Regions from separate parts of the Homo sapiens genome. Here all the other regions are linked to region 4. Evidence: fine-mapped expression QTL. A gene starts in region 4. Each other region holds a variant in brackets. All regions are shown on one strand. Distances are between the middles of the regions. Region 1 overlaps ADAM19 (ADAM metallopeptidase domain 19). Region 2 overlaps C5orf52 (chromosome 5 open reading frame 52). Region 3 overlaps ADAM19 (ADAM metallopeptidase domain 19). Region 4 holds the start of ADAM19 (ADAM metallopeptidase domain 19). Region 5 overlaps NIPAL4-DT (NIPAL4 divergent transcript). Region 6 overlaps ADAM19 (ADAM metallopeptidase domain 19).

The links.
Region 1: its variant is fine-mapped to the expression of ADAM19 in whole blood (TOPMed, PIP above 0.99).
Region 2: its variant is fine-mapped to the expression of ADAM19 in whole blood (INTERVAL, PIP above 0.99).
Region 3: its variant is fine-mapped to the expression of ADAM19 in whole blood (INTERVAL, PIP above 0.99).
Region 5: its variant is fine-mapped to the expression of ADAM19 in whole blood (TOPMed, PIP above 0.99).
Region 6: its variant is fine-mapped to the expression of ADAM19 in whole blood (TOPMed, PIP 0.99).

What each region holds. Positions count from the first base shown.
Region 1 is chr5:157,509,430-157,514,689 of GRCh38, forward strand. It overlaps ADAM19 (ADAM metallopeptidase domain 19), which reads right to left. Exons shown (of 23, transcript NM_033274.5): 8 at 4,005-4,076; 9 at 1-38. Among named protein-coding and RNA genes, the nearest start is that of NIPAL4, 52 kb to the left of the region's middle. The variant C/T (reference allele first, on the strand shown) is at 2,414.
Region 2 is chr5:157,679,986-157,685,245 of GRCh38, forward strand. It overlaps C5orf52 (chromosome 5 open reading frame 52), which reads left to right. Exons shown (of 3, transcript NM_001145132.2): 3 at 1-173. The coding sequence ends at 14. Among named protein-coding and RNA genes, the nearest start is that of C5orf52, 11 kb to the left of the region's middle. The variant G/A (reference allele first, on the strand shown) is at 3,139.
Region 3 is chr5:157,540,186-157,545,445 of GRCh38, forward strand. All of the region lies in intron 3 of ADAM19 (ADAM metallopeptidase domain 19), which reads right to left. Among named protein-coding and RNA genes, the nearest start is that of ADAM19, 33 kb to the right of the region's middle. RefSeq lists enhancers at 592-711, 852-951, 1,362-1,421, 1,582-1,691. The variant G/C (reference allele first, on the strand shown) is at 2,954.
Region 4 is chr5:157,572,787-157,578,046 of GRCh38, forward strand. It overlaps ADAM19 (ADAM metallopeptidase domain 19), which reads right to left and starts at 2,989. Exons shown (of 23, transcript NM_033274.5): 1 at 2,817-2,989. The coding sequence starts at 2,910. It overlaps LOC124901121 (a long non-coding RNA gene), which reads left to right and starts at 2,193. Exons shown (of 2, transcript XR_007059018.1): 1 at 2,193-2,584; 2 at 3,494-3,824. RefSeq lists enhancers at 1,685-2,214, 2,451-2,530, 4,388-5,003, 5,004-5,260 and a silencer at 2,701-3,140.
Region 5 is chr5:157,452,347-157,457,562 of GRCh38, forward strand. The region is part of intron 1 of NIPAL4-DT (NIPAL4 divergent transcript); the gene reads right to left. Among named protein-coding and RNA genes, the nearest start is that of NIPAL4-DT, 5.1 kb to the right of the region's middle. The variant T/C (reference allele first, on the strand shown) is at 3,091.
Region 6 is chr5:157,484,403-157,489,662 of GRCh38, forward strand. It overlaps ADAM19 (ADAM metallopeptidase domain 19), which reads right to left. Exons shown (of 23, transcript NM_033274.5): 20 at 4,700-4,784; 21 at 3,863-4,087. Among named protein-coding and RNA genes, the nearest start is that of NIPAL4, 27 kb to the left of the region's middle. RefSeq lists an enhancer at 2,059-2,559 and a silencer at 2,227-2,316. The variant G/A (reference allele first, on the strand shown) is at 2,268.

The DNA of each region.
Region 1 (5,260 bases), 63 kb before region 4:
CCCACGAGAGCAATCCGGATGTTCAAGGATCGGTAAAACTGAAAGGACACAGAAAAACCACAGTATCTGTCAATACCACCTGGGATTTAAAAGCCCCTTCCTTTCATTCTGGTGGAGCTTGAGATTAAAAAGAAAAAAACTAAAACTAAAAAATAAAAATAAATTTAAAAAAAAAGCTCCTTCCTAGCCTAAGAACTCAGAGCACAGATACCAGATTTCTCTTCTGCCCATGGCTCCAACAGAAGGAGGCAACTGGTGTTACTGACATTTTTTAGAAAGGGAAAATGAGATCCTGAGAGAGAGCAGGACATTCTGGTGGCAGAACTGCAGTGACTTTGTTTAGAGATGACTGAGATAGGACATAAAATTGCTTTCAGATATGAATAGGTCTATCATGTGGAAAAAGTTGTTCTGCATGATGTTCAAGTAGGGCTTAGGTCAATAGGTAAAACAGACAGGAACATAAATTTCATTTTAAAATAGGAAGAAGGCTTTCAAACAAAGCTGGTCATGAGATAGCTCAGAGCTGAGCTTTGCTGTCTTCTGTAATCAGTGCCCTTGGCCAGGCTGTCTGGTACAATTTTTTTCTCCCAATTCCTTATGTGAGCCTTATCTTTCTTATGGGTATCTAAAAAGTTCTCTTGTATATAGATTTTTTAAAGCCACTTCATTGAGGTATAATTTGCATACCATAATACCCATCTATTTTAAGTGTACAGCTCAATGCTTTTTGGTAAATTTACCAAGTTTTAAAGCCATCACCAGCCAAGCGTGGTGGCTCACACCTGTAATCCCAGCACTCTGGGAGGCTAAGGTGGATGGATCACATGAGGTCGGGAGTTCGAGACCAGCCTGACCAACATGGAGAAACCCCATCTCTACTAAAAATACAAAATTAGCTGGGCGTGGTGGCGCATGCCTGTAATCCCAGCTACTCAGGAGGCTGAGGCAGGAGAATCACTTGAACCCGGGAGGCAGGGGTTGCGGTGAGCCAAGATTGTGCCATTGCACTCCAGCCTGGGCCACGGGCGAAACTCCGTCTCAAAAAAAAATAAAAATAAAATAAAGCCATCGCCATCATCCAGTGTTAGAATATTTTCATCACATCGGTGAGATCCCTCATGTCTATTGATAGTCATTTCCCATTCTCACCCTCAGCCCAGGCAACCGTGCATCTACTTTGTTTCTATTCTGCCTTTTCTGGACATTTGTTTTACAATATGTGGTTTTGTGTGTCTGGCTTCTCTCACTTACCATAATGTTTTTGAGATGTATCCATGTGTTAGAGTGTATTCGTTTATGATTTCTCTTTATTGCTGAATAATATTCTTTCGTATGGATATACCAAATTATATTAATACATGGATATTTTATTATAAAATGTCTCCCACTCATTTTGGAAGTAAATGAGTATAAATGACATAAAAGTGCACAGATATGCTTACTCTTCAAATTTTCTTCCCCATCCCTGGATAGTCTCAGGTTTTGTCAAGGATGGAATAAGCAGGTTGCAAGCAATAGACTACAGACGTTCTTGGTAATCTTCAGGGTTTTGTCCAAACCAGAGATCCTGAAATTCTATACCCAAGATCTGACTCGACCTCCTCGAGGCTAGAGCTACATCTAATCTTTATGATCTGGCATTTTTCACCTCATACAAATATAAGCAGGAGGAGGGTTTTCTTTAAAGCTAAACCACTGGAAGGTGTGGATACAACGGGTTCTTTGATGGGTCCACCCTACAAATACTGAGCCAGTGACTTAATAAAAAGCCCCATGTATGGAGAGGACATAATGAGCAGGAGATACCATCTTTATCCAAAATTGGTAGGTACTGCCCCAGCTGAAAAGAATAATCATAGCACCAACATTTTTCCACCACTTTTTACGTACTAGGCACTGAGGCTTAGAGAAGTTAAGGAACTTGCCCAAAGTCTCAGCAAGAAGATGGTGGAGCCAGGATGAAGGCCCAAATTACAACCTCAGAGCCTATTTGTGACCCTTTACTACTTCAGTGCTGCAGTACCTACACATCCAGATAATCCACTCGCTCCAAGAAACGCTGGTCAAGATGGGCTCCAGATTCAGTGAAATATCAGTTTATTTCAACAGAAATTTTGATTTTTCTGTTTTGTGCCAGTTCAATCGTTACAGAAAATAAAAGGTTCAGATTCCAATTTGAATTTGCTTTACTAGGGAGCTTTTGAAGGAAGTAAACTTGGCTTTTTTTCACAGTTACAGAAAAACATTTTGGATTGGGTTCATGACTCAGCACGAGTCCAATTCATTCCAGTTTTAGTTCAACAATAGTTCAGTTCAAGTAGCTAGGTCAGCAAGCTCCAGAGAAGTGGGCGTGGCTTCCCTTACCCGCCAGGAGTGACTAACACCAGCCGCGAGGAGAGAGCCAAGACGG[C/T]TGCACAGGATGCATGGGCCACCCAGGCTTAGGGCTTTCAGTAAGGACTGGGGCTTGCTGGTGCCTCTCTTCTCCCTTCACTTGTCACCAGCGCCCTTGGTTCCATCACATACCCCACAGAGGGGATACCCAGCCAAGTCCGAACCTGCCAGGTCTCCAAACAATAGATGTCACATGGGGGAAAGCAGAGTCAGCCTCCCATATTCTCCCCAGGGAAACAAGCTTCCCTTGTTTTCCCAGATGTCAAATGTTTGGGTTGTAGGATTATTTAAATGTTATTCTTGAGTGAGTCAGGAGCTAGAGGGAGGACTGGACTGTGTCCCTAGAGTCTGTCCTTCCAGGAAATGCCAGTGTTTGACTTTCACCTGTCACTGACCACTGACCTTTGTTTCCAGAGCCATCTAGGGCAGAAAAAAACCATGGGCATGGAAACTGCCATCTGATGACTTCAGAACTAATACATTTGCCTATTAATCCCTAAAACATATTTTAAGTGATCTCCTATATTCTCTAGTGTTTAGGAAAAAATGATTTTCCCTTTAGACCTGGAATTCATGAATCCCTAGCAGGCCCAAAGTTAAGCTTCATCAATGTTATGAGTATTCTAAAATTGTGCAATAAACGTTACCAGATTCTCAAAGAGACTTTTGATCCCAAACACATGAAAAACTACTTTTAAAAACTATATACTACTAGCCTACCAAGAGGCTACTGTCATTCTAGGTTACCTATTCTGCATTTTGTACTATAACAAATATCTTCTTTCATATACACAATGTACTTCCAAGTCCCAGACCAGCCCGTTCTAGTAAAATTCAAAAATGTAGGTATTTCCGAAGAGCATCTTGTAAAAGGTCCTGACCTAGGAAAGTTAACCACTGCACATCCTTCCTAAGAGACAAGACATAATTTTAGGATAACTTTACAGATGGAGACTTTATAGATTAGCCCCAAGCAACCCACTTCTCAGACAATCCGCTTCTCAAGCAACCCACTTCTCAAACAGCCCACTTCTCAACTTTTAAGGCTGTGTGTCTTTCCCACCCTGACCTACCTCAATTCCCTCCTAAGTCAGAGAATCCCTGGGCTTTGTATCTGGAAGGAACCTTAAAGAACCTTAAAGGATTCTTAAACTGGGCTCTTCCATGCCCCAAGCTGCTCGGGAGCCACTGCAGGGGTAAGAGGAAGGGGTCAGAAGGACAGTGTTCTGGGTCCTCACCCCAGCTCCCACTTAGAGCAGTCTGTTTTCATCTAACTTTTATAGTAGATATTGGCATAAGATTTCATTTTTTAAAATTCCACCAGGAAAATAAAAATAACAAAAAAAAACCACACATTGATTTACGACAGCCTTTCTATTTATAAGCTGAAAACAGAACAAAAGAAAAAAAAATGCAACACAAAGAAAATGAGTTACTTGCCTAAGGGTACGTAGTTCAGGGCTCTGTCATGACCGCCCTGGGCCTCTATGGCACTGCTCATTCCCTTTCAGAAGATGGCTGGGGCAGCCAATCCAGCAGAAGGCAGCTCCAGTGCCCTTGGAAGTGCTGGCACCTGGCACCTTTCCCACAAAGTACACACCTGGTCTCACCTTATCAACATAGTTGGCGATCTCTATGAGCTTGTGTTTGGTGGCGTCCTGGTCTCGTCGATTCTTCTGAAACTAAATGGGACAAGCAGAACCATGTGAGATCCCAGAACCTCTCACAGGATGCTTCCTGCGCCCCATTACTTGTCTTTGAATTTGCTCTTATTTTCTTCTGTCTTCTATGAGCCATCATTTTTATGCAATTGTCTTCCCCACCACAGTAAGAGCTTTGGAGGGTAGGACCTGTCAACATCCATCTTCATATCCACAGCTACTAGCTCAGCGCAGCACACACAGTAGGCATGCAATAATTATGCACGGAGTAGAATTGCCTTCCTCTAACCCTTGAAGCACATCTTATTCTCCTGTCCTTCGAATTACATGGCCTCTGGCAAACTCCCACTGGGGCTTAGGAGGACTGATCCAATCCTCACCGTGGTCATCACCCCAACATGAAGCCACCATTACACAGATCTCACGAGGCTTCCCTACATGTGGTCAATCAACAATCATCGAATTGCTGCTGAATGCCTGCTATGGGCAAGGCATTGTGCTTAGCACTATGTAGGACACAAAGAAGTGTGAGATCTTGGTTCTAGCCTAGAGGAGCTTCAATTAAAACAGAGAGGGCCAGAAATAACTGTGGCAGATGCTGAGTGACAGACCCTGTACTTAAGGAGTATAGAACTGAAATGGTTGAGAAAACCTGCCGGGAAAACGTGCACAGAAATAACCACAGTGGGAGGTCATGTGAATGACATGAGTGCCAACGAGGAGGACCATAAGACACTGGCAAATAGGCTTCATCTTGCACACCACTCAGATCCACTGGCAGTGCCTTCTACAGTGAGAAGAATGAGAAGAATTATGAGACTGCATCGATTCAATCACATTTCTTTCTTTTTTTTTTTTTTTTGAGACAGAGTCTCGCTCTTGTTGCCCAGGCTGGAGTGCAGTGGCGTGATCTCGGCTTACAACCTCCGCCTCCCGGGTTCAAGCGATTCTCCTGCCTCAGCCTCCTGAGTAGCTGGGATTACAGGTGCTCGCCACCATGGCCAGCTAATTTTTGTATTTTTAGTAATGATGGGGTTTCACCATGTTGGTCAGGCTTGTCTCAAACTCCTGACCTCAAGTGATCCATCTGCCTTGGCCTCCCAAAGTGCTGGGATTACAGGCGTGAGCCACTGCGCCTGGCCGTAATCAGACATTTCTAACCAAGCACAGGAAAGAAAGCTGTGTTCCATTAGAAATATCTGCCA
Region 2 (5,260 bases), 110 kb after region 4:
CACCACCAGTTTAAACTCCAGTCTCCCAAGAAAGGCCAACCACCCTAGTTCTGGCAAAGGGATCTGCCCCAGGGTCACGATGACACCAGTGTGACCCGAGGAGAACTAGTAACTACAACCTACACAACTGTAGAACAATAAACAGAAACCAGCAGACAGCGGAGCATAATAAATCCTCAGCAATCCTCATATTCCTTGCCCATGCATCCCCTCTATTTGGTGAAGGAGGTCCTGATAGTCTCGTAGATGCTCAACTCAAAAAGGTGGGATCAAGCTAGCTTCCATGCTTAAGGCAAAGATTGACCTCTCGGTGCCCACATGTCTGAGGTGACATGCCGGGCCAAGTGTGCTGGGACAATGGTACCTTAGATGGAAGGCCTCAGTAATGCCACTGCCTGGCATTCCAGTGGTAAGGAGGTCAGGGGGAGGCATCAGAAGGACCTGGCTTAAGTGCTATTTCTACCACCAGTCAGTCTTGTGACCTTGTCACCTCCTTGGACCTCCATTTCCTTATCTGAAAGAATGTGGTAGTAGTAAGGGAACCTACCTCCAAGGTCTAGCATGAGGATGTAAAGTGCTGAGCCCAGGGCTCATCATTTCCAGTGGTTCTCACCATGATGGCTCCAGTAGCCTTCCAGTGGTCCCCACTCCCTGTTCTGCCTGCTCTCCAGACTACACCTGGATAGTCCCCACACTGTAGCTTTATTTGCGAAGATCCTTCATCTGGAATGTCCCTTTAGCTCTCTCTTCATCCTTCAAGGCTTATCTGTATGTCATTTCCTACATGGCATTTTTTTCTTTTTCTTTTTCTTTTTTTTTTTTTTTTGAGATGGAGTCTCACTCTATCGCCTAGGCTGGAGTGCAGTGGCGCAATCTCGGCTCACTGCAACCTCCGCCTTCCAGGTTCGAGTGATTTTCGTGCCTCAGCTTCCTGAGTAGCTAGGATTAAAGGCATGCGCCTCCACACCTGGCTAACTTTTGTATTTTTAGTAGAGAAGGGTTTTCGCCATGTTGGCCAGGCTGATCTCGAACTCCTGACCTCAGGTGATCCTCCCTTCTTGACCTTCCAAAGTGCTGGTATTACAGGCATGAGCCACCGTGCATGGCCACCAAAGTCATTTAATTCCTGGAGACCCCTAGCAGGAACACTTTCCAGCCCAGCGCTTTGTTAAGTCAGAAGTGTTACTCTGCCTATTAAAATTCTGGGCCTGGTCCAACTGCTGACTTTGAAAGTCTGCAGACCTATGAGGGCCGAGGGGACAGAGCCAGGGGCAGGCCTTGGACTGGGACCTCCTGCCTCCCTCAGTAACCTCTCTCTGGGTTTCAGCTCTCCCACTTGCTCTTCAGGAATGGTGGGGCTGGTGGGTGATTTCTGCACTTCCTTCCATTTCTCAGATCCTGAGATGTGGCACAGAGCTTTGCATACATAATGCTTCACGAATGTCTGCTGAGTGGAAGGAAACAAATCCTGCTCTGAGCAAAGCAAGAAAGTCCAGGCTTATCAAAATGATCACTCAGGGAGAGTTTAACTTGACTAATCACTTTACAAAGTGATTCCCAGTGGTATTCCTTATCCAGTCTGCTCATCCAGGAGCATTTTCAAAGCTTCTGTCACCAAGCCACTGTCATTCAAGTTGCGTCTTCCAGCTAATGGAAGTACCCCCATACAGGAGCTTTGTGCGATAGTCTTAAGTTTGGCCAGGCGCAGTGGTTCATGCCTGTAATCCAAGCACTTTGGGAGGTCCAGGTGGGAGGATCACTTGAGGCCAGGAGTTTGGGACCAACCTGGGCAACGTAGTGAGACCCTGTCTCTACAAAAAATAAAAAATAAAATGAAAAATCAGCCTGGTGTGGTGGCGCATGCCTGTACTCCCAGCTACTCGGGAAGCTGAAGTGGGAAGATTACTTGAGCCCAGAAGGTCAAAGCTGCAGTGAGCCAAGATCACACCACTGCACTTCAACCTGGGTTAGAGAGCGGAAACCCTATCTCAAAAAACAAACAAACAAAAACTCCCTATAGTTAAAAAACATTCACCTTCCACATCATCCAACACATGTTTATTTATTAATAGCTCCTTATACATACCAGGCACTCTTGTAGGTGCTGGAAATCATTAGTGAACAAAACAGACTCAAATCCTCTGCTTTCATGAAGGCACGATCCTCAGCTCACTGCAACCTCCGCCTCCTGGGTTCAAGCGATTCTCCTGCCTCAGCCTCCCAATAGCTGGGATTACAGGTACCCATCATCATGCCCAGCTTTTTTTTTTTTTTTTTTTTTTTTTTTGTATTTGTGTAGAGACAGGGTTTTACCATGTTGGCCAGGCTGGTCTTGAACTCCTGACCTCAGGTGACCTGCCCGCCTCAGCCTCCCAAAGTACTGGGATTACAGGTGTGAACAACTGCACCCAGCCAAAGCTTATATTTGAATAGTCTCGGGGTGGTGGAGAGGGGAGTAGGAAGAACAGGAATCAGATGAAACAGGAATCAGCTGCTGGAGTCTGGTGCCTCTGGCTGAAGGCAGGATGCCTCCTTTGGGCTTTATGGGGAGAATCTGGTTTGCACAGTATTTTCTCTGTACGATCCTTTGACATCTGGAAATGCTGTTCCCAAGCCTGGAAGGCTGTGTGTGTCCCTCCCTGCTTCAGTGAGGTTTCTTTTATCTGATGTGCACGATCTTTGCAGTCAAATGGCTCTGATTTGGAATCTCGGCTCTGCCTTGCAGAAAGAAGAACGTCATTTTGCCCCTTGGAGCTTCACCTTCCTCATCTGGAAACTGGGAATAATTGTAGTACCTATCTTATAGGCTTGTTCTGAGAACCCAGTTAGCTTGACAAGAACCTAGCCCAAGGCCTAGCATCTTGTAGGTGAATCGGAAGGGGGTTCTGTTGGGAATTGTAATTGTTGCGTTGTACCTGGAGTTGACACATACACTTCAAGAGGCAGCCTGGTGCTGGGGAGTGAGCCTTGGAATAAGAATCTAGAGGTGGGAGTTCAGCTTGTGTGATTCCTCAGTTTCCTCTGAGACCCTGAGCAACATACATTCCCTTTCTGAGCACTGATCTGCTCTCTTCCCTCATGTTCAGTTAATCCCCTAGGAGGAGGAAATTGGGTTGAGATAGATCCATATCCTCCAGG[G/A]GGCCTTGGAGCATCCCAAGCCAGCATGTGCCTGTTGGGAACCTGGTCAGGAGCAATGGTTGGTCACTGGGGTTCCAACCAAGCCTTCCACAGTTACTTCTGGGGGGCTGAGTGCACTCGTTCCACAAGAATGAAATGGTCACCAGGAAGAATTCTTCCTTAACTTTGTCACATTAGAGGGCTGGGAGGGCCTGATTCCCTGGAATCTGCCTTTTCAACCTGATTTCCCATACTTCTTCCCATGGGCCAGATCCCATGAATTCTCTCACTTCTCCAAACAGGCCCCTTGATTTTCCACCTTGGAACTCACTTTCTTCCTCCCTTCCTCCCTCCCTCCCTTCCTTCCTTTCTTCCTTTTGTTCTTCCTTTCTTCCATTTTTCTTCCCTCCTTTCTTTCCCCCCACCCCTCCCTCCTCCTCTCCCCTCCTCACTTCCCCCCACCCTTCCCTCCCCTCCCCTCCTCTTCCTCTCATTGCCCAGGCTGGAGTACAGTGGCATGATCATAGCTCACCACAGTCTTGAAGTCTTGGCCTCAAGTGATCCTCCCACCTCAGCCTCTTAACTAGGACTATAGGCATGTGCTACCATGCCCCACTAATTTTTTTCACTTCTTGTAGAGACAGGGGTCTCACTGTGTTGCCCAGGCTGGTCTTGAACTCCTGGCCTCAAGTGATCCTCCTGCCTGGGCCTCCCAAAGTGCTGGGAATACAGGTGTGAGCCACTATGCCTGGCCCACCTCAGAACTTTTGATTCTACTGTTCACCCTGAAAGGAATATAGATTTCCCCTCATTTCTACCTGAGGAAATTCAGCTCAGACCTTTCAGGGCCTGCCCTGACATGAGCTCTGCCTTCCAAGACTAGACTCTGTCCATCTCCCATCAGACTAGGAGTTTCCACCAGGCAGGGGTTGGACACATCAGGAAAACAGAGGCTTGGATGGATAACCCTTTCTTTGCAAATTGCATTATGCAGAACCAGCCATATTCTCTGGAGCTCTCAGGTAATTTCCATGGTGGTCCCCCCAACCCCTCATTGCTTTAGAGATTCTGCATACTTCACTAAGGAATCATTGACTCCTCTGAAAGATTTTCAGATAAAACTTGTCACTATCACTCTAAGCTGAGGTCACTAATTAATAGTCCTGGGACCAATAGCAGGGCATTGGTTTGATCAAACACTATGCTTCTCATGGTATTGAATTAAAGTACTTTGGGTGTGGTATGGAAGCTGCAGTTAGCTGCAGCTCCCACCACTGCCATCTCCCTAAACCCAAGTGCACTTAATCTCCCTGGCCCCTGAAGGTATGTGAGTTTGTGATCACTCCAAAGTGTTAGAACAGCAGTTCCTTTAAAATAACTAACAAGTTTAAAAACTTTAAAATTGTAATACAAGCACTATATATAAAATTCCATTTAAAGGGTATTCAATAAAGGAAAATTCCCCTCCTCCTCTCCAGGGCCACAGCAATAACCATTTCTGTGTGTCCTTCCAGAAATGTTCTAAGAGTATAGGCCCTTAAGATGCCCTTTATGGGCTTCATAAATTACGTGCAAAACTTTATTTTTATGTATTTATTTATTTGAGATAGAGTTTGGCTCTTGTCACTCAAAAAAAAAAAAAAATTAGCCAAGTTTGGTGGCACATGCTTGTAGTCCCGGCTACTTGGGAGGCTAAGGTGGCAGCCGTGACTGCACCACTGCACTCCAGTCTAGGTAACAGAGTGAGGTCCTATCTTTAAAAAAAAAAAAAAACAAGAAAAAAAATAGAAACAGAAAAAAAGAAGCCACCAGCCTGGCATTGCCCAGCTCAGTCAATAAAACATCCTTTTTTTTTTTTTTTTTTTTTTTTCAGGAAAAGTCATTACAAATGTTTGGCCAAGGGCAGGTCTAGCATGTCTCCCAGAAATGGGCCTGCCTTAGTATCCCTTATATACCCAGGAACTAGCTAGAAAAAGCTTGAAGGAAATCTGGTCTCAGTATAAACATGATGATGGATTTCACAGTGCAACAGTTGGGAGCCCGTAGTCAATTTTGCTTTCTGTAATTAGAGGTCTGTGGGGTGCATTCCTATGCACAGATGGCATTGTGATTCCCATTTTACAGAGTAGGCAGAATTTCAGAA
Region 3 (5,260 bases), 33 kb before region 4:
CAGGGATTATGACAGAAGAACCCAGAAAGTTTCTCTCTCTAACTTTCCCCAGCCATGAACTCTCCAGTACATCACTTAAGAGAGGTGGTAAAACGCAATGTGCTCATTCCTGCAGCCCATTTCCTGGGTTTGCTTTCACAGACTGCGCCATGTACAGCTGGTCAGGAGTTCAGAGTTTAATAGTTCATTCCAGGTGCCAGTGGGGAAGTGTGAATTTTCCCACAGAAAATGCACTCCTGGTAAAAATATTCTCAGCCTCTTCTGAGACTTAGCAAGGGGGGAGAAATCATTCACCCAGTGACATTACCCCATCATCACAGGCCTCTCTGACCCTCAGCACTGAAAGGAACCCTAGAAATCATGTAGTCAAACCCCAATTACACTGTGAGCTCCCCAAAAACAGGGACCTTGTGTCTTTGAAGTCTTCTCCCCGGCCCCCAGCACCTAGCAAGCAGGCAGTACATGTGCATTCTGTGAATGAGTGAATAAACTCGCAAACGAATGAATGAACCTTTTATCTCGTGTAGGAATCTGCCAAATGGCTATTCACCACTGGACACCTCCAGGGAGAGGCTACTCCTGAGACTACCCACTCCATTTCTGACCACATACAGTAGTTTAATGTTTTACTCCGGATTAAAAACTACACCTCTGTCACTGGCACCCACAGGCCTTCATTCTGGCCTCTGAATCTACATAAAACAATCCGCTTTCATTTTCCACCTAATCACCCTTTCTGAAGCAGCAATATCAGCATCATCTAGAAACTAGTTAAAAATGCAAATTGCCAGGCTCCACCCAGACTCATGAATCAGACAGAAACTCTAGGGTTAGGGCCAGCCATCTGTTTGAACAACTCTGCAGCTCCCCCAAGCTAGGTCCACATACGCCCATGTGTCCAGGTGCTGCTCTCAGAACCAAAGGACGCTGCTGTCCCACAGAGAGGAGGGCACATGGTCACTGAGCAGCCCGGCCCAGCCCAGCTGCCCCATTCTCTGACCACATCTTGTTCTCATCTCCTCCCTGACGAGGGGCTGGCTCAGCAGACCGGCAGGAAGCCGTCTCTCACCATTGGATTGCATTAGGATTTTCAGGAAACGACTTGTGAGTGATGTGCATCCAGGAAGAGAAAGGACTGTGCAAGATTTCCCATTCCGCCCACTCCTTTTTTCTAGCTTTAAAAGAAAAGCAATTTCTGTTCTACCCTGCTGCCCCCTGCTCTGTCTGCTCTGTGCTCAGGAGCCCACGGACAGGCAGAAATCAGTAGGACACTCTGCCATGTCTCGGCACCATCATAATAATAGCCAGCACTAGAGTTGAGCAAAATCTGGGTCATTTAGATTCCAAAGTCCCTGAGCAAAACCTGCATCTTCAGACTCCCACCTAGGAAAATAAGCTACCCCCAAATACCGGACATAAAACATTAGGTCACTCTCTAGGGAAGAAGAACTGGAACCTGTACAAGCAGCCAGGCCCTGAAAGTACACTGCAGCCTGAAAACAGCTCAGACCCGTCTTTCCTAAGGCTCAGAAGCTTCAAACTCAGGACAATTCCTTTAAGTTCTATTTATCGTCAGACAAATTTCAAATGCCTCTCTAGGCTAAACCACCCTCTAGAGAGGAAGGAGCAGTGACACTAAAATGAATTTGCAAAACATCTTCTGGGAGCTCAAACCTTCTTCCTCCTGCTTCAGATAAGCAAACCAGTGAAGATAAAGTGATAACAATTTCCCATTTACCTTGAAAAACACCCTCTGCAGACGAGCTCAGCATAGGCGAGCATCACTCTGCTCATCTCAGTAGCAAGTTTTGCTGACACCTCCTTTCTCTGGGCCTTTCTCTATCTAATTCTTCCAAGAGTCTCCAGGCATTTATACCCTGATGATGCCTTGGGAGGTCCACTTTTCTGGTCTCTCTTATTTCACCTGGAGGGTCTTCATCCTGCCTATGTTAGTAATAATGTTCTCACCATGCGACTTAGCCCAACAACTGCACAACACCTGGAAAGACTGTTCAAAAATACACAATCCCCTCCCTTTTCTAGGGAAGGATTAAGAAATCTGTATTTTTAATAGTTTTTTTTTTTTCAGGTGATTTATGTTTTCGGGTTCTGGGAATTATTCTACTCCATTTGAGCAATTTTAACATTTTTAATTCTTTTTTTTATTTCTAGCCTCCTAATCACCTTCCAAAAGTCTAAAGATGGTGCTAACCCAGCATAGAGGGAAAGTCGGAATGCTTTGGTTTAAGCAGCAGCTGCACTAGGCAACTGCCCTTCCAAAGCCTGGAAATGAAGCAAAAGATGACTATGGTTCCTCTCAATGTCACACAAGCGTACAGCCAGGGCTGGGTGCAATGGCTCACGCCTCTAATCCCAGGACTTTGGGAGGCCGAGGCAGGTGGATCACACGAGGCCAGGAGTTCCAGACCAGCCTGGACAACAGGGCGAAAGCCCGTCTCTACAAAAAAAAATAGCCAGGTGTGGTGGCGCGCACCTGTAATCCCAGCTACTCAGGAGGCTGAGGCAGGAGAATCGCTTGAACTCGGGAGGCGGAAGCTGCAGTAAGCTGACATTGCACCACTGCACTCCAGCCTGAGTGACAGAGCCAGATTCTGTCTCAAAACATTAAATTAAAAAACACTAAGGGAGCACAGCCAAGCCTTAGACTCTCAGAGGCCTGTCTACGGTTCTCTGGACTTTATGGGAAGAGTGTGGCTTTGAAAGATGTACTATTTACAATTAATTAGGACAGCCCTTGTTCCACTCTGTAAAATCAGATGTTAACTTGTAAAAACTTAATAAGATACAACAGAAATGCAAATATTTCCATCTAGTAGAAAAGATAACCCCAAAGGTTATGATTTTACAGCCCCTAGGATATTAACTAGTTTTGTGTCTAATTTAGCAATCTTATCTCAGCATTCCTTTTTTCACTATTAAATACACACACACC[G/C]CCACACAAATACGTCTTAGTTTCCCTTATCCAATTTTAAACCAGTTTTATCATCTTGCTGGTTAGCCCATTAATTAGATAAATAAAACTTCGAGAAGTGCTCACTATGTATTTGTATAAAAATTGTTTTCACGTGAGCCACATAAACCCCCTCCATTTTCTAGACTGCAAAATGAACAGACTAATAATCACCATCAGTATCACAGCGATGCTGAGGATCAAATGAGAAAATACATTCAAATCCTAGCTCTTATAAGTCGTGTGAATTCAGACTGGTCAGTAACTTCTCCGTGCCTATGGTTTCTCATCATAAAATGAGGAGAATGACAAAATCTACTTCACAGTGCCCCTGTAAGATGTTAGAATAGTGCCTGGCATATAGGAAGATCATATGAACAAATGTGAAAGAATTATTTGTAAAGTAGAAAGTATTTGTGCTTTACAAATATTGCTATCATTTTCTCCAGCACTAGCTATATATACACGTGGCAAAATCTTGATCATTGTTAAATCTAGGTAATGGGCATCTGAGGTTTATAATACTAGTCTCTCTCCTTCTGGGTTTGTAAATTTTGACAATATTTTTTAACTGGCTAGGTGATACGGTGCAAGTCACAAACTACTCAGCCTCAGTTTCCCTTTCTATCAAGCAGAAATGGCAATGCCCAGGACAGACAGGTACTGGAAAGTGTCTCTGAAAAGCAGAGTGCTATTCTAATGTCATGGCCTGCACTAGTCTAGATTTGGGACAAAATAAATTCAGTGAGTATTGTTTTGTTTTCTAAGATGCTGAAAGAAAAGCAGGGAAGAGACAGCCAGAGCTGCTTCAGAACCAAGATTTCTACATCAGTACTCATTCCACCTCTGACTCCAAAGGAATGGAAACAAACCAACGTGCCAAAGGCATGGCCCTAAAGCCAAATAAGGGACTGATGAGTCCAGGGGGCTGCAAGCAGACACATTCCTTTATGAGGGAACAGAAAGGCGAAGGAAGGGGGAACTTTGGAGGTTGCTCCTAGAGTAAAAAATTGGGACCTCCTCCTATCCCAGGGACTCCCTTGAATAAGCACCATCGTTGCCAGAGGACCAGCTTTGGAAGCAACACTCCGAAGGCAAAAATGGCGCCATCCAGAAGCCTGGCAAAAGGCCAATGCTACTCAGTATGTTTTCTTTAACTTCCTATTAAGGAAGTTTCCAAACAATGCGTTAAGTCAACACTCCCTTTCACCAACCACTTCCCACGACATCTTCTCCCAGTCCGCACAAGACCTGGCACCCTTCCGACCAGTTTCTGGTCCTGTGTTTTGCTTTTACATTATATACCAAAGGATGTTTGGATGAGCACCACTGACTCCTTTGGCCAGCAGGGTCTTTACTTAATCCTCTTCAGGCCTCCCTCGTGGCTGCCTCTGTGAAGATGGGTAACCTCTCTGCACAAATAGAGCTGACTTCTTGAGATCAGACAACTTAACTGGCAGGGACCTGCGGGGCCCTCAAAATGGCTCACCCAAGAAGAGTTCACAAATTTGTTTTCCAGTGTCCCGAATAGCCCATTATGTGTATTTGTTGGAATTAGATAAGAACAGTTCGGGGAAATGAGGTGCTACCTTTAGAATTTCTGAGAAAAATCTAAAAGCGAAAATGGTGAGTAGGAACAACTTCTCTAGCAACCAGTTTTTGGTAAATAACCACAGTGTTGATCAGATTAGCCGATACCACAGAAAACCTGAAGGGAAAGACGAATGTAAGAGGGTATGAGGAAACTGCCATATCATAAAGAAAAACGGTGTGGATAAGACACAGGGGAAATGAAGAGAAGGACCCTCTGAGATCACTGGAGCTGTGAGAATATGCTTAGAAAAAAGGGAATAAGCGGACCACTCCCTGAAACTAACAAACAAACATAAAACAGGTAGGTGAGGACCACAAACCAGCCTGCTAAATGTAGGTGCTTAGCCCTTTTTAAGCTCTGATTAAATATCCCAGTAACTTTCATAAACTTGCCCAATGTTTCTTAGCATACTAAGACACAGACCGCACCCAAAGCATAAGTCAAGGATGTCAGAACTTGGAAAGCCCTCATAGATCATAGTGGATACCTATTGTCAGAGCCTGCCCAGCATCCATGCCACCTTCTTGAGATAAACAGTGGCCCAACTTGCATTTAAAGAAATACTCCCCTCTCGTTGCATTGCTGACTAGGGCACCTGGAGTTGGTCAAGATCCCTGCCCTTGCCTGGCCAAATGAATGCTTCATGATATGCCTGGACAGTCAGATCTCATCTCAGAATTTCAAGATGATAGTAC
Region 4 (5,260 bases):
AACCTGTAATCTCAGCACTTTGGAGGTCCGAGGTGGGCGGATCACCTGAAGTCAGGAGTTTGAGACTAGCCTGGCCAACAAGGTGAAACCCTGTCTCTACTAAAAATATGAAAATTAGCTGGGTGTGGTGGCGCATGCCTGTAATCCCAGCTACTCAGGAGGCTGAGGCACGAGAATCCCTTGAATCTGGGAGGCCAAGATTGCGCCAGTGCACTCCAGCCTGAGTGACAGAGCAAGACTCCATCTCAGAAATAAAAAAAAGACAAGCATCGCTCTTGCCCTGGTGGCTCTGATAAGTCTATATTATTTTAAACAAAAAGGAATTCTATAATATTTAATGGAGCATTTAATGGAATTAAATGATATCTACGATTGTAAAAAAATAGTGAAAGCAATCTAAAATCTCACCAAAAGAGGAACATAGTACATGTTAAGAAAAGGTCTCCAAAACTTGGAAATAAGGCAAGAGCAAGCAAGATGTCTTCTCAATGTTGTATCAGAGCATTGTTTAACAGACTCACCCATGGATTACTGCATTATCTAGGGGAATGTACCATTGACTTTTTATTTACCATTGATTAAAAGCTACACTCTGTGAAGTTATATAATCTATATATATCTATAGAATTCTGTCTGACAGAGATGTAAGTGATTTCAGCATAGTAAAAAGATAACCTGGCCAGGCACAATGGCTCACGCCTGTAATCCTAGCACTTTAGGAGGCCGAGGCGGGCGGATCACCTGAGGTCAGGAATTTGAGACTAGCCTGGCCAACATGGTGAAACCCCGTCTCTACTAAAAATACAAAAACTAGCCGGGTGTGGTGGCACATGCCAATAAGCCCAGCTACTCAGGAGGCTGAGGCAGGAGAATAGCTTGAACCCAGGAAGCAGAGACTGCAGTGAGCCCAGATCGTGCCACTGCATGCCAGCCTGGGCAACAGATAGAGACTCTGAAAAAAAAAAAAAGAAAGAAAAGAAGGAATGAAGGAAGGAAATTAAAAAAGAAAGATAACCAAGAATTATGGTTTGCTTCATGGGGCATCCACCATTTCTGCATCTGCCCTGGGCCACATGATTTCAACATTCTTTCTCCAATGCTTGTATCACCCCTTTCTAATGCTCCCTGAATCAGCTTTACTCTCCTGTTTGCTACCTCATTAATGAGTTGAATAAATCTTGGCCACATTTGTATGAGTCGTGTTTTTAACTTTTGAAAACTTTGTATAGAGTCATTAAAATCATGTTTTACAGAGAATTTGATGATGTGGAAAACGCTCATGGTGTGAAGTGAAAAACGCAAGACACGAAACTGTACTTATGGGTATGGTTCCAATTTTATCAATATATATCCATAGGAACACACAAAGAATGTGGAGGGGAAAAAAAACAAAATATCAACAGCAACTGTGGATTTGGGGGTTGCAGATCATTTTCTTTTACACTTTTCGTTATTTCCCAGATATTCTACAGCAAGTGTTCTCCAAGGACTCAAAACTCAGAGAAGGCGCCTGTGCTAGGAGCAGTAACTAGCTTTCCTTGTCTTTCTTCATGCTTTTCTCCTGCACTAAGCACTGACACAGGCCTGGTGCTACCCTAGAACCTCCTCTGTGCCTCAGTTTCCCCTTCGGAACAACAGCTCAAAGGGCGGTTCCTTTGAGCCCTTTGGGAGGACCGCCCGACCTCGGCCCCTGGAAGTTCCGAACTGTCGGAAGAGCTCTCAGCCTCTGGGTTTGAGGCGGCCCGGGGGTCCAGCCAGCCCACCCTCGCTCCGCCGGTGCTCGCTCTATTTGAAAACGCTGACTGTTGGTCCCCCAAGCAGCAGTCTGGAGTCAGCCCAGCCCGTCTGCAGCGGTGGAGCCAGGGCTAAGCCTTCTCCGGTCATAATGAGAGAACCCGGGCACCGCCCCCCGGGACCAAGCCTTCCGCGAAATCTGCTTATAGCCCCCGAGGGATGGAGCCGGGGAGGGGATTGGTGTCTGGGAAACTAGTCCTGAGAAACACGGACATCACCCGGCATCTTAGCTGGAAACATCGAGTCAGACCCCTTCGCTTCACAGAAGGGGAAACTGAGGACCAAAGAAGGCGGCCGTCGGGTTGGCGTGGAAAGAGAGCCCTGGTTTCCAGTGCCACCGCGGACCTCAACCCGTGGCGTGGCCTTGGGCAAGTCCTTTCCCTTTTGTGGGCCTCGGTTTCCCCATCTGTGAAATGGGTGCGTTTGACTTGGCCTTCAGTAGGGCTCCTGCCAGCTCGGGGATCCGAAGTGTGTGGCTGCAGATACCCAGCGAGCCATCCCCTAGCCAAGGCTACCACAGTCTGCCGCGGGCATTTTATGTCCTACCCCACCAGTGTGGCAGGCACCGAGCCTGGTCCCAGGAAGCCGCTCCCAGGCCACACGGGCAGGGCGCTCGGGATGCTCGGCGTTGGCGAGTGCAGCGGGCGGTAGAGAGAAAGACAGAGAGAGAGGCGGAGCGGACACGAGGGACCGTGAGAAAACGGAGGAGGATAAGCCCCGAGAACGGCGGAAAGAGAAGCCAAAAGCAGAAAAACAGAGGAAGGAGAAGGCGAGAAGGGAAGGCTAGCCAGTGAGCGGACCGGCTGTTTTCTGGCTGCGCCGGGTTTCCCCGACCTCTGCCACCTCCCAGGGCGCAGAACGTGGGAACAAAGCCCGGGCTCCCAGGCTGGGGACGGCGGGGGCGCAGGCCCCGCGGAGTTGCGGGAGGCGCAGGGGTCGCGGTCCCAGCGCTCCGGACCCGCAAGGCTACTCCCAGGTCTCCGGGCCACCCAGCCTCCATCCCCCCGCGCCTGGCCACTTACTTGTCCATCCAGGCTCCCGCGCCGCCCGCGGCCGGAGGGGCTGCAGGGCAAACGCCAGCAAGCAGAGCCGGGCGGCGCCTGCGCCCCCTGGCATGGTGGCGGCGGCCCTTAGCGCTCGGCGCTCACACGCCCTCAGCCATACCTGCCCACTGCCCGGCGGTGGAGGCGCGTCTGGAACCCCCCGGCTCGCCCCGCGCCTCCCCACCCGGCTCCCAGCCCTCTGCCGAGACGCTCCGCCTCCAGCCCCGCGGGCCTCCGCCAGGGGATGGAGGAGGGGAGGCTCCAGCCCGGAGGGGGCTGGAGGGAGGGGCCGGGGAGGAGCTGGCGAGACTCGGGGGAGCGGGGCTGGCTCAGGTGAGGGAGACCGCGGGGAAGGGAGAATCCGAGCCCCCCAGGAGGAGGGATTTGTGGTGGACGCGGCCTGTAGAGGGTCGGGGACTCGGGCTTCTAGGAGTTAAACTGGACCCCTCTCCGCACAGCGGCCCGTTTACTGTCCCGCACTGTGCCAGACGCCTTGGGTGACACTCAGAGGTGATTCACCCAGCGCCGTCCCCCGGGGGCCGCCACTCTCGGAGACAGGCTCAGAAAGAGTTAACCCAACCGCCAGGCACAAAGAACTAAGTGCTATATGGACTTCTTTTTTTTTTTTTTTTTTTTTTTTTTTTTTTTTTTTTAAGCAGGACACAAATCCAGGAGCCATTCCTTCTGCCTGGGAGGAGGGAGTGATGAAGACCAGAGGAATCCCAGAGGAGAAGCCATCTGAGATCGGGAGGAGGAGAAATGGAACATCAGGCGGAGGAAACAGCCCAGACAATCGCACTGGGACGTGAAAACCCTTGGGCTGCATGCGGGGAGAAAACCAGAATTGGGGATGGTTAGGGTTTTGGAGGGAAACACAGGGACATGTGACCAAAAATAATAATAACTACTGTTACTTATTGAGGACTTTCTATGTACTAGAATAAGAAAATCATGATAGCTAAGACTGATAAAACGCTAAGTGTCAAACGCTGTCTTCAGCACTTTACACATATTCACTTATTTAATTAATCGGAGAAAATAACTTTTATGAGCCAGGGACTCTGCATACATTATCTCTTTTCATTAGCCCAGTAATCCCATGGGGTAGGTACTAGTACTATCCCTGTTTTAGAAATGAGGAAATCAAACCTGAGAGGCTAAACCACTTGCCCAAGATTACACAGCTAATGTCAGTGCCTAGATTCAAACCCACATCCGTATAACTCCAGAGCCTGATGCAACACACCTTATTTTCCAGGTGGAGAAACTGATAATGAGAGAGAAATGACTTGCCTAAGATCCCTCAGCAAGTTTTAGCAAAGCCTCGTTGTAGAATCCCAGCCTCAAACCTCGTCCATCTGTTCCTTTTTCTGAGCCTCTTTAGTCAAACCCAGGTTGACTAGAGAAGTGCTAAGTGTTGGAGAGGGCGAGGCACTCCTGAAGATGATGGGTAGGTAGGTCTATCAAACCCTACTCATGGGCACCCATGAGGGAAATCAAATAAGTGGTTCTGGCCATTAATGTCGTTTGGGACTCCGTTAGTCTCCAGCTGCTGTAAAATTCGTATCTTTCTGTGAACCCGAAATATCTGAGATAGGTCTCAGTCAATTTAGAAGGTTAATTTTGCCAAGCTTAAGAACGTGCTCATGACACAGCCTCAGGAGGTCCCAACATGTGCCCAGGGTGGTGGGGGTGTAGCCTCCTTTTATATATTTTGGGGAGACATGAGACATCAATCAATATGTGTAGGATGTACATTGCTTCCGGTCCGGTAAGGCAAGACAACTCCAAGCTGCAGAAAGGGTGGTGCTTCCAGGTTATAAGTAGATAAGAAACAGAAGAGGTTACATTCTTTTGAGTCCTTGATCAACCTTCCACTGAATACACAATTTAGTCTAGCTCAGTGAATCTACATTTTTACATAAACAATAGGGCAGAAGAAGCAATCAGATATGCATTTGTTTCCGGTGAGCCTCAGAGGGATGGCTTTAAATTCTGTCTGTCCTTTGTCCACAAGGAATTTCCTTGTGTGAAAATTGTGAGGAAGGTATGTAGCTGTTTCTCTTTGTAGCTATCTTATTTAAGAATAGGATGGTGGCCTGGCATTGTGGCTTAGGCCTGTAATCCCAGCACTTTGGGAGGCCAAGGCGGGCAGATCACCTGAGGTCAGGAATTCGAGACCAGTCTGACCAATGTGGCGAAACCCTGTCTCTACTAAAAATACAAAAAAAATTAGCCAGGCGTGGTGGCACACCTGTAATCCCAGCTACTCAGGAGGCTGAGGCAGGAGATCGCTTAAACCTCGGAAGGGGAGGTTGCAGTGAGCCAAGATCACGCCACTGCACTCCAGCCTGGGCGACAGAGTGAGACTCTATTTCAAAAAAAAAAAAAAAAAGAAGAAAAGAATAAAATGGGGGACAGGT
Region 5 (5,216 bases), 120 kb before region 4:
AAAGGAACTGCCACAGGTCCCAGTGTGTTAGTGACAGAACAGGGACCGGAACTGATATCTCCTGTCTGTTTTTATACCAGCCTGTCAAACAGCAGAGTCTGAGATGGTTGTTTGTTTGTTTGTTTGTTTGTTTGTTTGTTTTTAACTGAAAGGGAAAACAGAGCCTAAGTTTGTTGTTCATGTTCAAGTTAACTTTAGAATCAGTCTTCCCTCTGGCCACATTCAAAGCTCACTGTGTTCCCACCCTCCCTGTTCCCGTATACCAAATGCTGTAGGTCCACACAGGCCCAGGGGACGATCGTTAACTACAGTCCTCCTCAATCCTCCACCGGGAGATTTCTGCCCTTACGGTTGCCAGTGAGAAGCAAACGTCAGGAAACAAGGAAGACAGAGTGGCAGGTGCTTTGGGAACCTGCTTGAATCCCAGCTTAGCTACTTATTCTCTGTGTGAACCTGAGCAAGTCACTTCACCTCACAAAGTCTCACTGCCATCGGCTGTAAAATTTGGGTAACTTTATGAAGTTACCATGAAGGTATCCTAACATGGGGTTGCTGTAAGGCTCAGAGGCAATACACATAAAGAACCTGCAACATGGAAGTTGGGCAACAAGTAATAGTTCATATCAATATTATTGTTTTAACTATAGCTGGTTTTCGACAAGATCTGAAGTTCTTATACATACTTTAAGTGCATTAGGCTCTGTGCACACCCACATCAAGGCCAAGCAATGCTGCACTTCCACATACATGCGTTGACGTGAGCCCTGCCTTCTACAGTAATTTGACAGTCTTCCACCTGCAGGCAGATGTTCTGATGGGAGAATCCCATAGATGCAGTTGGATCAGCCTGAGAAGAAACTGGCTCTAGAATTAGTCTGCTGGGTTTTGTTATGGCTCCACTATTTAATAGAAGACAAGTTTCTCAACCTCCCTGAGCCTCAGTTTTCTTATCTCTAAAATGGGAATAATAGCAGTCCCTAATTCTTAGGCTTGTTTTGAGGATTAAATGGGATAATACCCGTGAAAACCTTAGTGCATTGGCTTATCTTTTAAAAGTGGCCAAAAACTATTAACTCATGACTTGTCCTAAAGTCTGTCCTTTCTTAGAAAGAAAGCAAAGAAACAGGCCAGGTGCGGTGGCTCATGCCTGTAATCCTAGCACTTTGGGAGGCCGAGGCAGGTGGATCACTTGAGGTCAGGAATTTGAGACCAGCCTGGCCAACATAGTGAAACCCTGTCTCTACTAAAAGTATAAAAATTAGCTGGGCATGGTGGCACACACCTGTAATCCCAGCTACTCTGGAGGCTGAGGTGAGAGAATTGCTTGAGCCTGGGTGTTGGAGGTTGCAGTGAGCTGAGATCACGCCACTGCACTCTAGCCTGGGTGATAGAGTGAGACCCTGTCTCCAAAAAAAGAAAAAAGAAAGAAAGCAAAGAGAGAGATAAAAGTGCTGGGTTGGGATTCCAGTGACTTTGAGTCAAGTACTGATTCTGCCACAAATTAGCTGAGTGGTGTTGGACATAACCTTGCCCCTCTCTGTATCTCAGTTTCCCCACAACTTCAAACAAAGGGGGTTGGATTAGGTGAGCCTCTTCAACTCTGACTCTGGCTAAGGGCCGACGAGAAGGTTATATAGTTGCCCCATGTTGTGTCTGGCTGGCCCCAGTCTTCCCATACAGAGGAGGGTCAGGAAGGGGACTAATCTTCAAACCAGTGGCCTCATCAAACCAGTGCCTTAGTTAAAGGAACTGCTGTGGGAATGCACAATCCCAGTTTGAAATTCTCTGTCACTGTGTGTGACCTTATGAAAGTCACTTCACGTCTCTGAGCCTCAGTTTCTTCATCTGTAGGATGGGATTTAAAGTGGTACCAGAGTAAGGAATTGTAAGAGCACATGAGGTAATATCTGCTAAGTGCTTAGCACACAGAACTCGGTAGAGTGGTGGGTTAGTAATCATTATCGATGCCAGTGGATCCCATCGTTAGGCATGGTGCTCTTCTTAGAACCAGAGCAAAAATACACTTGTCCATTCCAAGCCTTATTTCTGACGTCAGCAAAGCTATTTATGAGGACAGCAGCCATCCCAGGGACACACCTGAAAAGGGGTGGGCCAGCCTCTGCATGCTGACCATCCAGATTCCATGACTCCCTGTCAGCCTGAAGGAGGTGACAACCATCTGTCTTTCCCCACCCTACCCAGAAGACCAGCTCAGCAGGGCTGGGAAGGACTTCAGACTATATCTTGCGCGGTCCTCTTATCCAGGTTGGATGTAAGGAGAAGAGGTGAGACCTATCCAGGTCTCACTAGACCTAGGACTGCACGACAGTATGTGTAGTATTAAAAGAAGTATTTGGGTTTGATTCTTAGTTTCTCAACTTGCAGGCTAAGAGTCCTCACAGGACTTCAGTTTCCTCATCTGGAAAACAGGCTTAACAACAAAGTCTCTTACTAGGGTTGTTGCAAAGATTAAATGAAGATTAAACATAATGTGAGCCGCAGACGTAATGTCTCTCCTCTCTATTCCTGCTGTAGTGCTCTTTGACCATAGCACACTGGAAAGACGCAATGCACTGATTTCTGGATTTCCTTTCCATTGTGAAGCTGTATGGAGCAGCAGAGTTGTTCTGGAGTGCTATTGTGCCGAACTCCTATTCACCTCAATAGGGAAGGCACCAGGTTCAAGGGGCTGAAGAAGAGACCCAGAGCCAGCAAATGAGAGGTGGGGTTTGATTGGCAGCTTACATACAGGGAAGAAAGTCCAGTGGTGGTGAGCTGGACAGGAAAACCCGCCCACTGACAACAGGCTAGGACAGGTAAGGACACCACATCATCTTTACCTACAGAAAAGGTCCACTGGTGACAGGCTAGACACGATGTCCTCTTTACCTACAGTCCGGCCGCGGTGGGCTGGACAAGATAACCCAGTGGCGAAGGGCTGGGCAGGAAAACCACAACCACTTGCAAACCACATGCAGTTTATATTCCATCTTCACTTAACACCCTCCCCTTAACGACCTCCACCTGGCAACCTTCATCCAACTCAAACCTCAGGGCTTGGATCTTCTGTACAGCCCATATTCCATGGGA[T/C]AGGCAAGGGGCTCAGATGTTCCTCATAGACAAGAAACGAGTCTCCAGGTTGGCTACTCCCAGATTCCCGAGCTTAGAACAGACATTCAGGTGTGTCTTCTGTACAGGCTCATTGTAAGCGTATGCTTAAGTTATTGCTACCAGGTGCATTTATCCTACAGGTGCCAGTCTGAAAACCTGACTGGGGCCCGGACTGCCTCTCTGTTGCTCTGTGACCTTCTGTTGGTCACTTTCCCTCTCTGGCACTCAGTTTCTTCCATTAACAGCACTGCCCAAAAGAAACATAACATGAGCTACATATGTAATTTTAAACAGTTTAGTAGCCACTTTATAAAGAGTGAAAAGAATAGGAAAAATAATTTAATAATGTTTTTACTTAGCCCAATGCATCCAAAATATTATCATTTTAACATGTAATCAATATTTAAAAATCATTAATGAGATTTTCCTTTTTTTTCCTTACTAAGTTTTTGAAATCTGAGTGGTTCTCAACCCAGAGTGATTTTGGCAATTGTCTGGGGGTGTTTTTGATTGTCAAAACTGGGGTGGGTGTCGGGGTGCAGGGGTGTGTGTGCCGCTGGCATCCAGAGGGTAGAGGCCAGGGGTGCTGCTAAACATTCTACGAGCACAGGACAGCCTCCAGCAACAAAGAACGATCTAGTCCAAAATGCTAACTGAGCCTGTTTTCTACTTATAGCACATCACGATTCAGATTAGCGGCTCATCAAGTTCTCAAAAGCCACATGCAGCTGGTAGCTGCCATATTGGACGGCACAGCTCTGTAACCTAAAACATCTGGACATGCACTTGGAAAAGTCAAGTTTTTAAAAACTTGGGTTTTGGTGAATTTGTTTTCCTACTCATCCCAGAATAACTGACCGAAAGAGCTGCGGCTGGGTCACCAGTCGCTGGCTGGCTAAGGGCAGAACCCATCTGTCCCTGGCTTGTTAGACCCTTCGTAAGCCACCCACCCTCCTCAGGGAGACTGAGCCTGGAACAGACAGTGAACCCTGTTGTTCTTTTCTGGGGAGACAAAGCTGCAGGCCCTGCTACCTGCCTGACAGGGCCATTGTGGCTAGAGGAGAAAAGGGCTTTGTCAGGAAGCAGCCGAGAAGACTGCAGTTCAATGGGGCCCTTTATGTCTACACTGGCAAGATGCTCTGATGCCAGCCCTGTTGAGGCCCAGCCCCCTTTTAGAACAGATGGGGAGCCTGAGGCCCAGTGAGGTTGTGAAAGTCCCTGCAGTGGATCCTAGCCTCCTTCCCCTCATGCCACTGCCCTAAAACATGAGATTCTCCTGACTCTGAAAAGGCCGGTCTTGAAGCATAGGATAAACTCAATATTGCCCTTAACCCCTGACAAGGAGGCCCCTTCCCTGACCCTAAAATTTAGAGGTTCCACAAATCACAAACACATACAAAAATAAATGCATTAAAGAACATATATGTGCATCTGTCTCTCAGGATCTGGGCTTAGCTCTGGCAACTACAATCTGAAACATCCTCTCTTGTGATTCAAAAAGGCCACTAAGAGAAGCCACTATTTAAAGTGTTCTCAACATACACGCATGTATGCACACACACGCACAATATAACTAAGTGAGGTGATAGATGTATTAATTAGCTTAATCGTCGTTATCATTCACGATGTACACCTATATCAAATCATTATGTTGTACATTTTAAATATATATAACTTTCATTTGTCAGTCATACTTCAATAAAGCGAGGAAGAAAAAAGGTCAGACCAGAGGGAAATACTCCGAATCTCTCACCCTATGTTCTTGGAATAAAAGCAGTCAAGTTTGAATGCAGTGAGGGTTTGAGGACTGTACCACTCCAGGTTCAGTGCTGACTCCGTTTTATAGCACAAGGAGGAGCTGAACAGCAGAAATGCTTAGAGAAGAGAAAGATAAGTTGAATTCTCTTGTCAAATTCTCCCTTGCAGGTAGCATGGATGCATATATTTTTTCATCATGAAGTCTCACTTCCGAATAGGGCCAATCATCTAGTGTCTTGCTGCTCTGTGTTCAAATTCATATAGTCTTGGAGGTGTTCCCCTCTACCTGAACGGTGGTACCACACACCTCCAAAGTTAGAGGCGGGCCTGGGCACACTCACCTGCAG
Region 6 (5,260 bases), 88 kb before region 4:
CATTGTTTTTTAAGGGGCAAAGAATGACTGTCCCACCCGCAGGCCCCCAAGCTGTTGGGGTTTAAGGGGAAGCCAACTGCATAGAAGGGAGTTCCAGTGCCTGCTCCCCTTGACTTCCTTCCCTTCTCGAGAGGGTCACTACCACGTATTAAAGTGGACAAAAGGCAAGCACATAGAGAGGGCAGGAATAACACAAAGAGCCGAGATTTTCCCCAAGAAGCTTCATGGAATCAGAAACTAAAGCAAATTCTTAAGGCCAAAAAGCCATGTTCTTCAGCTCTATCTAGAAGGACAATACAACCCGCCCCCTTCACCACCACCTTCCCCAGCTCAGAATAGCTGCCAAGTTGCAATGGTTGCTGGAAGCCAGGATAGAGACCTTCTGGGGCAGGTGACAGCTGGGTGCAGATGTCAGGTTGCAACTGGGAAAGGCTGTGCTCCCAAGGGAGCTGTGCAAATGAGCCACTGAGGGGCTGGAGTTTGGGCAGGAGCCTCATCAGCATGTCAGCACTGGGCCTCCCAGGGCAACCAGCCACAGGCCACATCTGCGATGATCCAACTCAGCCCTACCAGGGCCCTCGCCCAGCACTGTTTTCCTTTTTCTAGAGCAGAAACAGTCCCTCAGCTACTCTGGCCCATGCTCCCTTCCACAAGGGATGGCATCTTACTCAATCAGATTGCACAAGCCTGACACGGGGCGTCATCCCCTGCCAAGCAATGGATCTTCAACTCGTTATCTATTTTCTCTTCTGCACATTTCTCATCAGCTTCACTTCATCAGCCCTGCCTACTCCCTGCTCCAAGCTTTTACCATCTTTCTTCAGGACAACCTTTAAATCTTCTAACTAGGACACCCATTTGCTTCTAGAGTGACTTTCATTTTTTAAAACTATTTTAAAAATTCAAATATAATACACACAGAAAAAGGCGAACAAATCATAAATATACAACTAGATGAATTATCACAACGTGAATACACTAAGTAATCCCCATGCAGGTCAAACAGTAGATTAACAGCTTCAGAAGCATCTATGGGCCCCTTGCAGGAACTACACCTCTCTCCTGCCTAAAGATATCCCAAAGAGTGATCAATCCTTGTCAACAGAAAATTGCATCATGTCACCACTGTCCTCTTCCTATGGAATACAGACCAAAGTCCTGACCAAGGCTATGTGGCCTGGGCATAGACGGGCTCCTCCTGGCTTTCCAGCCTCATCTCATAGCTCCTTGGGACCCAAGCACACAAACCTTTAAGTTCCTTCAATCCACAGGGCCCTCTCCCATGACAGAGCCTCCCTACTAGTGGGTCCTGGGACCAGGAAAGCTCCTTCATCACTTGCCCTCACAGCCTGGTTAAGTCCTGTTCCTCCTTCATGTCTCAGCTCAAATGTCACCACCTCAGGGAAACCTTCCTGGATTTCCCAGATTAGGTCAAATCCTCGTTACTCTCTTCTGAGCACCCTGAGCCTCTCCTTCACAGCACATATCACTGTTGCAGTGACACATATCCCAGAGTCACTGCCCCAGCAGAATGTGAGCTCCTGGAGGCAAAGCTGCCATCTGCCTTCCTCGTCATTGCCTGGCCCAGAGTGCAGGTGCATAAGCCGGTTTAGAATAGCAGAACTGAAGAAGTGATGAGGTTTCATCTATCACTTCTCCAGGGGGTCCATGTCCCCCAGCTAGGAGGTGGGGAATCTTTGATGGCAGACTGGAGACTGTGAGTGGCCCCAGGGCAGGAGGCTGTCTCACTCAGCTGGATGAGACCTGGGTTCAAGTCCTAGCTCCTCCACTCACAACTGTGCAATGTCGGGCAAGTCCCTTCAATCCTATGAGGCCTGGCAACCTCCAAGAGAAATGAGGGCTGCAGCAACTCCCTTCTTGGAATGGCTGTGAGGAGGCAGGTGGCAGCCCAATGTCATCACAGCAGCCCCCACTCAGAGCAGCTGCCTCCCACTGTTCGCTTGTAGAGAGACACCCACCTGGGACCCGGGGCCCAGGAGAAGCTGTGCTTGGGGGCTGTGTTTTGGGGTGCCTGCCACTGGCTGGGCAGCTTCCTGCACCCGGGACTCCTGCCAGCAGTCCCAGGGGTGCAGGTGCAGGGTATGCACAGCCTCCACCACTTAACAGACAGCTGGGTCCCCGCTGTCCCTGACACTTCCTGACCTACGGCTCAGCACCTAGGGGTGACAGGGGTGAGGCTGGCCCCGTGTTCTCTGAACATGCCTCTAGTGTGGGTTTTTCAGAACAACAGTCTGAGTGGACTGCTC[G/A]CCCGACCCACTCCCTCCTCCCTCTGCTGGCACTCCTGTTCTCCTGTAACCCCAAGTCTCTACACGCCTGCTTTCTCCCTTTCTTTCATCTCTCTGTTAGGGACTGAACTGTGCACTCATCATTTAAAAAAAAAAAATCATATGCTGAAGCCCTAACCCTGAGTACCTCAGAATGTGACCATATTTAGAGATAAGGTCTTTAAAGAGGTGATTAGGATAGAATGAGGCCACCTAATCCAATCTGGTGTCCTCATAAGAAGAGGAGAGTTGGACAGGCAGACACCAGGGAGGCAGAAGTGCATAGGAAAGGCCTCGTGAGAACACAGCAAGAGGGCGGCCACCTGCAAGCCACAGAGAGAGGCTTCAGAAATCAACCCTTCCAGCACCTTGACCTTGGACTCTTAGCCTCTAGAACTGTGAGAAAATAAGTGTCTGTTTTGAAGCCACCCAGTGTGCAGTACTCTGCTATAGCACCCTCAGCACACGAGTACACTCTCCACCTCTCTCTCTCCACTCCTCCCCTCTCTTGCTTTTTTCCTTTCCTCTTTCCTTCTCTCTCCCTGTCAATCTTTCCTCTCTTTCTGCATGGATTTTTCCATCCTACCTCTGCCCCACATAAAAGGAAGGGGAGAGCAGCAGTTTCACAGCAGAGAAACAGAATGGATGCCCTCAGCCTTCCCAAACTGTACCACTGCCACACATCCCAAGGACCCTCCAAAGCCTGCAGCCAACCCCAGAGTCCTTAGGGTCAGAGACAGCTTGGGTTCCATGGAGCCCTCTGGATTACACCCAGAGAAAGCAGTCTCAGTTGAGGGGTCACACCCAAAACACACAGGCCAGTTCCAGAAGGCACCCCACCCGGCCGCCACCCAGGAAACACCTGTGTCTGCACTGGGGGATCTCCTGCAGAAGGTGTGGTCAGAGCCATCAGAGCACACACACGCAGTGGGAACAGGCTGCTGGGCAGGCTATGCCTCCAAGAGCACCAGGGCTGGTGGGGGAGAGTCTAGACCCCACTCTCACCTCCCAGAGGCACCTGCCCCTTGGGATGGGCAAGGCATCAGGATACATCCCTAAGACTTTCCAATCAGTAGAAGGTACCAATAGGTACAATTTGGTAGGAAGAGTACTATGATGAGAGAAGTACAGTCCCATCAACCTCAGAATTGAGGAATCAGGATAGACTTCCTGGGAGAAGCGGCATCTAGGAGCAGATCTGAGGATGAGCAGGAGGTGGCCCCACCAAGGAGAGAAGGAGCGTATCAGGCAGAACAAGCAGCATTTACAAAGACCTAGCAGGCAGACGAGCATGGGGGAACTGACAGAAGTTAATATGGGGTGGAAGGTGGGTAGTGGCTTGTCATAAAATAGGCCAACCCGGGAGAAAATGCCACATGGTTTAGGAGCTTCTTAGAGAGTCTATTTCCCCACGTTCGTTGCTCTAACCTGCTGTGCGCCCCCGTATTGACTGAATTGCAGAAAAGGCAGTCAGCTCATGACCCCACAAGTTTCACCTTCCCCACCTTTGCCATTACCCATTGAAAGTGGCCTTAAAAGCAATGTTCCCAGCCCAAGGTTGCTGATTATCCACTTACCTGGGAAACGATGCAATTTGGTGCGGGGGGAATTGGCCGGCTTGGAGGAGGCCTCCTGGACGACTCCGTCCTCTCTATTTGAGACCCGGGCCCTGGGGAGTTCCTAGCAGCCCTGCTCAGGTGAGCTGGCAGTGGTGCAGGTGGGGACCCACCACGCAGATAATCTGGAGGGGGCCGGGGAGGAGGCTGGGAGGGCTTCCGCAGGATTTCCGGAGTGTTGATCACCTGTACGCACAAGTCAAGGAACACCTGAGACAAGAAATCACTCAGGGCTGGCCTTGTGTGTCTCTTTGAGATAAACCAGAGCCCAAAGGGAGAACAGACACACCAATCTATTAAACCCCTGAGGATCCCAGAAGTCAGATGCAACCTTTAAAGTCATTAGGGGATGTCAGAACCAAATAACATGTCTCTCCAGCCAATAAAAGGGCTTTTATTACCAATCCCATGGGCCCACAGAGGCTCTTAGAAAAACACAGCATGGCGGCCGGGCATGGTGGCTCATGCCTGTAATCCCAGCATTTTGGGAGGCCGAGGCGGGTGGATCACGAGGTCAGGAGATGGAGACCATCCTGGCTAACACGGTGAAACCCCGTCTCTATTAAAAATACAAAAATTAGCCAGGCATGGTGGTGGGCACCTGTAGTCCCAGCTAATTGGGAGGCTGAGGCAGGAGAATGGCGTGAACCCTGGAGGCGGAGCTTGCAGTGAGCTGAGATGGCGCCACTGTACTCCAGCCTGGGCGACAGGGCAAGACTCCATCTCAAAAAGAAAAATACAGCATGGCCCTGAGGGATAAAGGAAAAGTAGCAAAGTTCAGTGGTGCAAAGCTCTTACCTTTCGCTTGCCCTGGGGCGTCTGCAGCTTGAAAGTTGGGTTGGCATGACCAGTCCCGCTGTTCTGAGAAACCCTGAAGGGACAACTAGAAACAAGAAATGGGGGAGGAAAAGAAAGGGGACGATGTTCAGCAGGGGACAGTGCCTGAGTTCCCTTTGACCCAAGCACGGCCAGCAAGCAGCTAAATCTTTCCCAAGTCTGCTCTGGAGGGAGTGGGATTGGTCTTCTCGAACCACATCTTCCTAAGTAGAAAAACGTGTGGCCAATGGAGAACTCTCAAGGAAACAGAGTTGGCCTTATACAAAGCAGAGCTCTCTCAGCACCTTCTCTTCACCCTTTTAAGACCCTTCCCCTGTGAGGAGACACAAGGGTGTCACGAGCCATCAACCAATCCCCATCAGGCATAGATCCAGAAAGACCTGGGACTTAAAATCCCCTCCAGAACAAGTGTTATTTAATAGGTGACTCAGAGACTGTACATCTTCCATATCCAAAATAATACATCACTTTTCAAATGGGACACCAAAAGCGAGCAGGAGTAGCTATTCTTATACCAGATGA